Homo sapiens: one gene and its partners. The protein of the gene in region 1 purifies or fractionates together with the protein of each later gene. This does not show direct contact. Each region holds a gene or a part of one and is shown in the gene's direction. Other genes may lie near its edges.

Region 1 (4,229 bases):
TTGAGACATGGTTTCACTCCAGTTGCCCAGGCTAGACTGCAGTGGAGCAATCTCAGCTGACTGCAGCCTGACTTCTGGGTTCAGGCGATCCTCCCATCTCCGCCTCCCAAGTAGCTGAGAGTACAGGCACATGCCACCATGCCCGGCTAATTTTTTTTTCTGTATTTTTAGCAGAGACGGGGTCTCGCCATGTTGGCCAGGCTGGTCTTGAACTCGTGGGCTCAAGTGATCCACCTGTCTAGGCCTCTGGTTGGGTGTGAAAATATGGCCCAGTTCTGGCCAATGGAGAAGGGAACAGGTCATCTGGGGAACTGTGGGAAAGACTTAACTCCCTGAAAAAAAGACAAATGAGAATTATCTTTCCCTCCATCTTTTGGGCATAGCCAGGTAAAAATGGGCCACTCAAGGCTGCTACAGCCATGGGAGTCCCTGCAGGGCAACAGTGCAGACCCAGGACCAGTGCAATGGAGACAGCCTGCTGAGTCCTTGGTGACCTTGGTGAGCCACTAAACCCAACCTGAGTCACCCTCTTCCTGCCTTTCTGTTACCGAGACAATGGGTGTCCAGGCTGTTGAAGCCCTTTTGAGTTTAGTTCTGCTTCTTGCACCCAAATGCATTTTAATGGGGCCATGAGCTCCCAGGCTCCACATGGTCTAAGGTACCCCTCACCTCCAGGGCATCCCCATGGAATGAAACACCCCCTCTGGCCTTCTCCCAAGACTTCTGGCCCAATATTTTCTGGGTGTCTTTACAAGACAATGTCCTATGGGGTGCACTGGGGATTGACATCTCCCTGCCTCCGAATGCCTCCCCTTCCTGGAGTAGGAAGAGCTGCCCAGGGTTCTTTTTAGAAGAGACCTTTATTTTGGCCAGGTGCGGTGGCTCACACCTGTAATCCCAGCATTTTGGGAGACCGACGGGGAGGCAGATCACAAGGTCAAGAGATCGAGACCATCCTGGCCAACATGGTGAAACCCCGTCTCTACTAAATATGGAAAAATGAGCCAGGCATGGCAGCAGGTGCCTGTAATCCCAGCTACCTGGGAGGCTGAGGCAGGAGAATCACTTGAACCCGGGAGGCAGAGGTTGCAATGAGCCGAGATCGCACCATTGCACTCCAGTCTGGGTGACAAGAGCGAAACTCTGTCTCAAAAAAACAAACAAACAAACAAACAAACAAACAAAAAAGAAAAAAAAAGAAAAGACCTTTATTTCTCAAGCAAGGGCAGAAATTCAGGGCTCCCCTTCGACTCTGGCTGCTCCCAAGGTGGCTTTAAAGCACCAATGAGTCCATGGCTTGTGTAAGAAATGATTAGTCCTTCCATCTAGAGAAATAGCTCCTTTTTAAACAGTTGTCTCTTTTAAACAGTGTTTAGTATTTAAGTGAGGTTGAAACAGTGTCAAAAGGAAAGTGAAAGTGAAATTCTCTCCTTCAGCATAAAAGCTGATCCACAAACAAGAGGAGCACCAGACCTCCTCTTGGCTTCGAGATGGCTTCGGTAAGTTTCCCAGGGCTTTGCATTACTGACTCTACAGCAGTTGGGCAGCTCCCCCTAGGAAAGGCCTCAGTCCAGGCTCCTGGCCTTGGGCACACAGCTCCAGAGCTCGTCTTTAGAAGGCTGTCATGGAAAACTGTATTTGTCTTTTAAAAGTGCATCTGCCCAGCTGGACAGGGAGTCCTCTGGGCAGAGTCCACCTCCTCTGCGTAACTGGCACAGTGCGGGGAGCCCGGGACTCCCATGTAGTAGAGAGCTGTGGGGTGCCGGGTGTCAAATCTACCTCAGCCTGAGGAGAAGCCAGAGTGTGGGCAGGTGGGGGACTCTGGGTTGTGGGAAGCAAGCAAATCCCAACATCGTCTGCTTCTGCTGTGACTGGGGCTCAGTCCCTTCTCGGCCCCAAACGATGCTTTCTCTCTCCTCGTTCCTCTGTGGCATCATCCAGCCTTCTAAGGTGCATTCTAATCTCAGCAGCTTTCTGAAAACTGAAATTTCTCCTCCTATCAGCCCAGATGTACCGATTGGCAGAAGCTCTAGGGAGAGCAGGCTGAGCTCGGTGGTGTGTGACTAAAAAGGAACAGCGGGGCTCAGGCTATTACTAGAAACAAAACCATTCCGGGAAGGAGTCCTGCAAATTCTGGAGGGCAGCCCACTCCAACAGCACCACCTGATCCTGGGGAAGGGCTTTACTGCTGCCAAAACAAATCAGGGCTTTTAACAGGGAGCCCAGGCCAAAGCTCATATCTCACTGGCCACCAGCTGAGGTTGCCAGTACCTTGACTGTGGTTTTAGACATTCAGCATTGCAGTTAAAAGCCCCTCTCTCTCCCCACATGGAAACCATCTCCTGTGGTGCCCTGACATACAGAGGAGGAGCTGGGAGGGAGTCCTGGCCCTGCTCCTTTCTCCTCCCTCTTCCTTGTCTATTTCCTTGCCCCATTCTACGCCAGGCCCTTCACTGGGTCCTGGAGGTGCAGGGAGGGAGGAGCACACAGGATCCTGCCTGCCTGGAGCTCACAGCCCAGAGGGGCACAGGGAGGCACAGGGAATTGCAGCTCAACTTGACCCCTGCAGAGAGCAGCAGAGGCCCCCGGGGACCCAGGTCCTAGGAGTGGGGTGGCGGGTCAGCTGAGCCAGGCTGGGGCCATCAGGGCAGCTTCTCAGGTGAGGGGGTTTGAGGGAGGGGAAGAGGAAGAGTGGCTGCAGGGAAGTGATGGAGGCAGGGAGAACCAGATGTGCAGAGCAGCAGAGACCAGAGCCAGGGCAGTAGTGAGGGGCTGGGATGTCACTCAGTGGGCCTGTGGGTGCAGAGCCCAGGGAGGGAGAGGAGGGTGAGGAAGGGCCAGTCAGGAAGGGCCTGGGAGCTGCCCACAGGGTGTGTCCTGGGCCCTGAGGTCAGAGGACGGTCATGGCCAGATGTGCCCTTGGGAAGGCCACCATGGGTTCTGAGGAGTTGGATATGGAGTGGCAGGGACAGGAGGCAGGGGCTGGTCAGGGGGTTGTGGGGGTCACAGAGGCAGGCATGGGGCTGCCTGAACCAAGTCAGTGGATGGGATATTGACAAGCACACCAACAAGGAGAAGCTTCCGGAGTCCACATTGATTGGTTTTAGTGACTGGATATTGGCATGAGGAAGAGGGCAAAGGAGAGCAGACCCCAGGTCTATGATGGGACATCCTGGGATGAGGGAGGAGGAGGCTGTCACCCACTGAGGACAGGGACAGAGAGGGTGAAAATGGAAAAATCCTCCAGTCATGAGGCTGCTATGCCCTGGGGCAGGACATGGAGAAGTGGGAAGGAGGTGAGGAAGGGGAAGAAGGTGGCCAAGACAGGAACCAGGGTGAGGGGTGTGCAGGGAAGAACCAGCTCGGCCTCCTTCCAGCTGAGTGTTCTCAGGAAAGCCCTGCCACCTCTCTGATCCTCAGTTTCCCCATCTGTGCAATGGGATGATCATGCCTTCCCCTGGGGCTGTGGAGATGGTGCAGTTATTGTAGGACAAGTTCCCACAGAGGCCTGTTCTGTGAGTGCAGAGCCCCCTCAGTGCTGGGAGCTGGGGGGCCCCACAAGACCCCACTCAGGTCCCAGCAGGATGCTGTGAGCTCCTGTCTCCCAGGGTGTCATCTCCAAGAGATAGGTGTCCTGAGGCTGGATGGGGCAAGGTCTGAGGAGGAGGTGGCTCTTGGGGCCATGGAGAGGCACAGGGCAGGAGTGATGAGGAACTGAGGGTCAGTCTGCAGAGGGCGGAGAGCTCAAGACTCACCTTCCCAGCCTTGCTCCTGGCCTCAGTGAAGGTGCTGGTTCATGCAGGCTCTTGAGTCGGCCTACTGAGGAGCATGTGTACAATGCACACATGCACACACATCTGCATCCTCAGCATGCACACACACAGCACACACATGTCACACATGCGCCCAGACGGTCCTTCTGTCTCCCATCCCACAAGATCATTCTCCAGGCTTCCAGCCCCCAGTGCCCCCACTGAGAAGAGCCTCTGAAAGTGACAGCAGGGCTGAGGATCTCATGGGGCTAGCAGCTGATGAACATCAGCAAGGCGTCTCCAGGATGAGCTGCAGCTCCCCCAGCCAGGGTCTCTGCTGTTGCCTAGAAGGCCGGGTACTCCATCTCTGGCTTTTCTGTTGCAGCCACACCAAGAGCCCAAACCTGGAGACCTGATTGAGATTTTCCGCCTTGGCTATGAGCACTGGGCCCTGTATATAGGAGATGGCTACGTGAT
Region 2 (3,500 bases), on another chromosome or scaffold:
GGCAAGGATCATTGCAGGCACCTCTCAGGGTCAAAGTGAGGAGTCAGGTTAACCTCACAGAGGCCCCAGCATGGCCCCACTTTTTCTCCCTGGGTGGAAGCACTGTCCATGCTAGACAGCTTCAGGCCTGTAATGATAACCACTGGGTCCCTTTCCCTTGGGTCCTCCCAGGCCAAGACAGTGGAGGAGAAACGGAACTGGACTCACCACATCAAGAGGCTCATCCTAGAGAACCACCATGCCACCATTCCCCAGAAGGTGAGTTCCCCCAGCTCCTGACTGTGTGCAAGGAGAATGTGCTCCTCTGAGCCAGCTCTGCAAGGTCCATTGGGGGCTCACCTTCTGGATTTGGGCTCCAGTGGACAGTGAGTGTCAGTACAGCAGATGCCCCGGGCCTTGGTGCAGCACTGTGGGGTGTCCTCGTACAGCAACAGTGGGTCCTATGGGCAGGGAAGGCCGGCACATGGTAAGGTAATAACCAGGTGTGTTTCCTTCCCCTTCAGGCCAAGGAAGCCATCTTGGAAATGGATTCCTATTGTAAGTGTACCCTTTTCTGCCTGTTTTGTCCCTAATCGTGCACATTGCTAGGTCAGGCTGCATCCTGGGGAAGCTTTACCTGATAATTTTATTCCAGGAGCAGGGAGGGCGGGGGTCTCCTGTTAAGGGCTGGGGGGTGAACTACATGATTAAGGATGCTCTCCTGCTGAGCGGTGGGACTCTCAGTGCCTGAAGCTCCCAGCTGGAAGATGGAGGGAGCTCTGGAGGCTCCTGGCCCTGGAGCTGGGTGGGTATAGAGGTCTGGCTGGTTATGGACAGGGTCTAGGGTAGGCCAAGGCCAATTGGGAATCAAAAGCTTGATCGTCTCTCTCCTGGGTGCAGATCCCAATCGGTACCGCTGCAGCCCAGAGCGGCTGAAGAAGGCTTGGTCCTCCCAGGATGAGGTGTCCACCAATGTGCGCCAGGGGCGCCGGCAATCTGGTAAGAGAAGGGCTGTGGAGGCAGGAGGCCTCTCCCTCACACCCTTGCCCAGACTGGGGACCGTCTGCGGCAGTGTCCAGGGCTGTGGCTCTCACCTCTGCGGAAACCCTGGGAAAGGCTAGAGCGGGGCTGGACACACACCTGGGGCTCATCCTCTCCCTGTGCTGGTGCTCCCCACACCAGGTACCCCTGGGCCCTCGTTGCCTACCAGGTCTGGAGCCCACCTTTTTCTTACTTTTTTCTTTTCTTTTCTTTTCTTTTTCTTTTTTTTTTTTTTTTGAGAGATGGAGTCTTGCTCTGTTGCCCAGGCTGGAGTGCAGTGGCTCGATCTCGGCTCACTGCAACCTCTGCCTCCTGGGTTCAAGCGATTCTCCTGCCTCAGCTTGCCAAGTAGCTGGGACTACAAGCGTGCACCACCACACCCAACTAATTTTTGTATTTTTTAGTAGAGATGGGATTTCACTATATGTTGGCCAGGCTAGTTTCGAACTCCTGGCCTCAGGTGATCCGCCCGTCTCGGACTCCCAAAGTACTGGGATTATAGGTGTGAGCCACTGTACCCGTCCAGCCCACCTTTTTCAAGGCCCTAGGAATACTTGCTCGCTCCGGCCTTGGCACCCCTTCTTAGCCCCCTCCCTCCTTTGCCTCTCTGGAATACCAACACCAAGTCATTCAGGAGTGACACTTGGACATGGCGGATGGGCCCAGCCCAGTCCTGGAACAACCGAGCAGAAGCAGGACCCGGGGAAAACGAGTTCAGTGGCACCAAACCCAGACAGGAAATATTTATTTTGGGTCTCAGGAAAAGGTTCCATTTTCCTCCCTTGAGTTTTCTTCCATTCCTGGACTTGCTAGGGTGTTCTTGGATTATTGGAATGAATCGTCTATTTGAAAAGAGAAAACCTTGCTTTTATTCTAAACTCCGTGGTGATGGGTGTGTGTGTTTTCAAAATTGGTTTTTTCGTTGCTATTTAGTGCAAGGCCCAAGGACAGGTCTGGCTTAAGCCAGGTGTCTGCCAAACATATACCCAAGGTGGGAGTTGGGGTGAGAATTGTCTTTAAGACCCTGGGAGAGAAGGATTCTAAAGTGACTGAGAGTGGTGTCCTGGCTTGGGTCCCACAGATGTGTTGGGTTTTGATTGGTGATGACCTGTGGGTCCCCTGAATGTGTGTGTGGATTGACATGTGGGTGTTAGCCTTCGAGAAGGTGGAGCAGTGGCTTATAGAAGGCTTTTGTGGTTTTATGTTGTTGGTATTGCTCTGGGTGGATCTTGAGCCCTAGGCCACCTTGCTATGGTTGCAAAAGTTTTATGGTTTTTATAGTTAAAAGCTCCAAATAGGGGTGTTGCTTTCTTCTCTCTAGCCCTCTTTCTTTTCTCTTCTCTTCTCTTTTCTTTTCTTCTCCTGTAATTCTCTTCTTGTCCTCCTCAACTTGCCATACCTTAAAATTTGAAGCTTCTAGCACACTGATGTGTTCAGCAAGTGATAACGTTGGTGGTAGTGATAGTAGCTCTATCCTAGTGTTAGCATCGAAACTTTAGCTATGGATGTACAACTCTTTGAATATACTTAAAGCCGTTGAATTGTACACTCTAAATAGGTGAATTGTATTTGAATTATATTTCAATAAAGCTGTTACAAAAAGCCCCCAAACTTTAGGTGTCCAAGGCACTCAGGAAATGAGCCATTTTAAAGAGCTGAAGTTTCCACATGGCTGAGATTTTTAGCCTGTAAATACTAAGAGTTGGATTTTTTCAAAAAATATTTAAAAAATGTTTTAACAGTTATGAAATTCCCTCCCTCCCTCCCTCCCTTCCTTCCTTCCTTCTTTCCTTCCTTCCTTCCTTCCTTGTCTGTCACCCAGGCTGGAGTGCAGTGGCACCATCTCTACTCACTGCAACCTCTGCCTCCCGGGTTCAAGTGATTCTCCTGCCTCAGCCGCCCGAGTAGCTGGGATTACAGGCACGCGTCACCACGCCCAGCTAGTTTTTTTTTTGTATTTTTAGTAGAAACAGGGTTTCACCATGTTGGTCAGGCTGGTCTCGAACTCCTGACCTCAGGTGATCCACCCGCCTCGGCCTCACAGAGTGCTGGGATTACAGGCATGAGCCATCCCGCCTAGCTGAAATAGACATCTTTCTAAAGCATGTTTTGTACTCTTGAGCCTTTTAAAACAGAAGGTGCTGGCCACCGTTGAACCTTTCCTTTTCTGGAGTTAATGCTACAGCATCACTTAGGGTGTGTGAACTGCCAGATGCTTGAGGGGCCCCAGAGGCTGTGGGTTGCCATAGAGACAGCCTGTGTTTGGTGTGTCGTGCCCCTCTTCACGGTTCTTCTGTAACACTGAAGTATTTGTTTTCATTGGTCTAAGTATGCTTGTCTGTAGTAGCCCTTCTTCCCCTCCTGTCTGTTAGAAAGCGATCGTTCAGGCCAGGTGTGGTGGCTCACTCCTGTAATCCTAGCACCTTGGGAGGCTGAGGTGGGAGGATCACTTGAGTCCAGGAGTTCAAGACCAGCCTGGA
Region 3 (3,500 bases), on another chromosome or scaffold:
GATCACGCCACTGCACTCCAGCCTGGGCACCATTGAGCACTGAGTGAACGAGACTCCATCTGCAATCCCGGCACCTCGGGAGGCCGAGGCTGGCGGATCACTCGCGGTTAGGAGCTGGAGACCAGCCCGGCCAACACAGCGAAACCCCGTCTCCACCAAAAAAAAACGAAAACCAGTCAGGCGTGGCGGCGCGCGCCTGCAATCGCAGGCACTCGACAGGCTGAGGCAGGAGAATCAGGCAGGGAGGTTGCAGTGAGCCGAGATGGCAGCAGTACCGTCCAGCTTTGGCTCAGCATCAGAGGGAGACCGTGGAGGGAGAGGGAGAGGGAGAGGGAGAGCGTGGTGATGACTCTTAACCGATTTTTAATTATTTCAATCATTTTGTTAAATTTACCTGATAGAATTCTGAATTCCTTCTCTGTTATCTTGAATGTCTCCGAGTTTTCTTAAATCAGCTATTTTGAATTCTCTGTCTGAAAGGTCACATATTTCTGTTTCTCCTGAATTGGCTCTTGGTGACTTATTTAGTTAGTTTGGTGGGGTCATGTTTTCCTGAATGGTCTTGATGCTCGTGGATGTTTGTCAGTGCCTGGGCATTGAAGAGTTAGTTATTTATTGTAGTCTTCACAGTCTGGGCTTGTTTGTACCTGTCCTTCTTGGGAAGGCTTTCCAGGAATTTGAAAGGACTTGGGCGTTGTGATCTAAGCCGTATCTGCATTAGGGGGCACCCCAAGCCCAGTAAAGCTGTGACTCTTGCAGACTACTAGAGGTACCACCTTGGTGGTCTTGTATAAGATCCAGAAGAATTATCTGGATTACCAGGCAGAGATTCTTGTTCTCTTCTCATACGTTCTCCAAAACAGTCTGTCTGTGTGCTGAGCTGCCTGGAGCTGGAGGTGGGGTGACAGAAGCACCTTGTGGCCATGACCACTAGAACTGCACAGGGTCAGACCTAAAGCCAACACAGCACTGTGCCTTACCCAAGCCCCTTGTTAACCACTATCTGGCTACCACCTATATTGACTCAAGGACCTAGGGCTCTATAATCAGCAGATGGCAAAGCCAGCCAGGCTTGTGTCCTTCCCTTCATGGTGGCACATTCACCCAGGCTCGGGGCCGGTCCAGAGACCCATCTCAGCACTAGGACTTGCCTAGGAGTTGCAGTCCTTGTGGCCTAGACTGCCTTTCAAGTTTATTTAGAGCCCCAGAGCACTTCAGCCCACAGTGGAGAGGCTTGCCAGAACTCAGGTTCCAATAACTGGGGTGGGTGATTTGATTCCTCTCTGGCTAGGACTGATCTAAATGCTCCCTCTGTGGGTAGGCGTCAGCTGAATTCAGCCCAGTTTTGCTTTGTGAAGCGACAAGGCAAAGTCTTTCTATTCTCTTTATCACCATGCTCTCCCTTTCCTGAGTGCACAGATTCTCTGTGCATGTGGCCCCTGACACATGGGATATGGGTTGCATTGGCAATTCAAGACTGTTTCTCCTACCCTCTTCAGTGCCTGTTTCAGTAATATAAAGTTAAAACCAGGTACTGTAAGTACCCCTGATTTTTGGTTCTTATGAAGGTGCTTTTTTGTGTAGTTGTTAAATTTGGTGTTCTTGTGGGAGGGATGATCAATGGAGCCTTCTATTTGGCTATCTTGCTCTGCCCTCTCCACCCTTAAGTCTTCTGGCTTTCCCCCACTTCTCTCTGGCCCTAAACCATTTTTAAGTATACAGTTTGGTGATATGAAATACATTCACAATGTTTTGAAACCATCACTACCATCATTTCCATAACTTTAAAAAATTTTAAATTAACATGACTGGTTCTTCAGGGTACCATAACTCTTTTCAACTCGCAAAAGTGGAATTCTAGGAGGACATTAAAATTCTCCATTTCCTCTTCCCCCAGCCTCTGGCAACCATCATTCTAATTTCTGTCTCTGATTTTGACTACTCTAAATACCTCATATAAGTTGAATCATACAGTATCTGTCTTTTTGTGACTGGCTTATTTCACTTAGCATAATGTCTTCAAGGGTTATTTATGTTGTAGCATGTGTCAGAGTTCCCTTCCTTTTTAAGGCTGAGTAGTATTCTATTGTATGTATATGCCACTTTTTGCTTATTCATTCATTTGTCTGCAGATACTTGGGTTGCTTCCATGTTTTAGCTAGTGGGAATAATACTGCTATGGGCATGAGTTTATGAATCTCTTTGAGATCCTGTTTTCAATTCTTATATATCCGGAAGTGGAATTGCTAAATCATATGGTAATTCTAATTACATATATGTACATATATATATATATATATATATATATATATATATTTTTTTTTTTTTTTTTTGAGATGGAGTCTGGCCCTGTCGCCCAGGCTTGAATGCAGTGGCATGATCTTGGCTCACTGCAACCTCCATCTCCTGGGTTCAAGAGATTTTCTTGCTTCAGCCTCCCAAGTAGCTGGGATTATAGGTGCCTGCAACCACACCTGGTGAATTTTTGTATTTTTAGTAGAGATGGGGTTTCACCAGGTTGGCCAGGATGATCTCGAACTCTTGACCTCAGGTGATCCACCCGCCTCGGCCTCCCAAAGTGCTGGGATTACAGCCATGAGCTATTGCGCCTGGCCTATTTTTAATATTTTGAGCAGCCACCATTCTGTCTTCCATAGTGGCTATATCATTCCCACCAACAGTGCAGAGGGTTCCAATCTTCCCACACCATCAACATTTGTTATTTTGGTTTTTTTTTTTTTGATAGTAGCCAACCTAATGAGTGTGAGGTGGTATCTCACTGTATGTTTTGATTTGCATTTCCCTAGTGATTAGTGATCTTGAGTGTCTATTCATGTGCTTATTGGTGATTTGTATATCTTCTTTGGAGAAATAGCTATTCAAGTTCTTTGCCCATTTCAAAATTCAGTTGTTTGTGGGTTTTTGCTTGTTTGTTTTACCAACCAAACAAGCGGCAGTGATATGTTTTTATTGTTGAGTTTTAGAAATTCTCTGTATATTCTCAGTATTAATGCCTTATCAGATGTATGACTTGCAAATATTTTCTTCCATTTTTGTGGATTGCCTTTTTACTCTATTGTTCGTGTCTTTTGATGCACAAATGTTTAAACATTTCATGTAGTCCAATTTGTCTCCTTTTTTCTTTTGTTGCCTGTGCTTTTAGTGACATATACAATAAATCATTGCCAAATCCAATGTCATAAATTTTGCCCTATGTTTTCTTCTAACAGCTGTATTATTTTAGGTCTTACATTTAGGTCTTTGATCCATTTTGAGTTAGTTTTTGTATATGATGTTAGGTAAGGGTCCAGCCATATTCTTTTGCATATAGATATCCAGTTTTCACAGTACAATTTGTTGAAAAAACTGTCCTTTCTCCATTGAATGGTCTTGGCACCTTCGTCAAAAATCATTTAACTATATATGTGAGAGTTTATTTCTGGGTACTCTATTGTATTCCATCGGTCTGTATGTCTGTTTTTATGCCATTACCACAGTAT

The links.
Region 2: the proteins of PLAAT4 (region 1) and PLEKHG3 purify together in Homo sapiens (affinity purification with mass spectrometry; one large-scale study listed by BioGRID and IntAct). This does not show direct contact.
Region 3: the proteins of PLAAT4 (region 1) and RNF135 purify together in Homo sapiens (affinity purification with western blotting, with the first as the bait; one study listed by BioGRID). This does not show direct contact.

The regions. Positions count from the first base shown.
Region 1 is NC_000011.10:63,535,379-63,539,607, forward strand, and holds the start of PLAAT4 (phospholipase A and acyltransferase 4), read left to right. Parts: upstream 1-1,429; 5' UTR 1,430-1,490; coding exon 1,491-1,499; intron 1,500-4,137; coding exon 4,138-4,229. UniProt on the Homo sapiens protein: Exhibits both phospholipase A1/2 and acyltransferase activities. Shows phospholipase A1 (PLA1) and A2 (PLA2), catalyzing the calcium-independent release of fatty acids from the sn-1 or sn-2 position of glycerophospholipids.
Region 2 is NC_000014.9:64,731,924-64,735,423, forward strand, and holds part of PLEKHG3 (pleckstrin homology domain-containing family G member 3), read left to right. Parts: intron 1-171; coding exon 172-258; intron 259-503; coding exon 504-537; intron 538-879; coding exon 880-978; intron 979-3,500. UniProt on the Homo sapiens protein: Plays a role in controlling cell polarity and cell motility by selectively binding newly polymerized actin and activating RAC1 and CDC42 to enhance local actin polymerization.
Region 3 is NC_000017.11:30,981,039-30,984,538, forward strand, and holds part of RNF135 (E3 ubiquitin-protein ligase RNF135), read left to right. Parts: intron 1-3,500.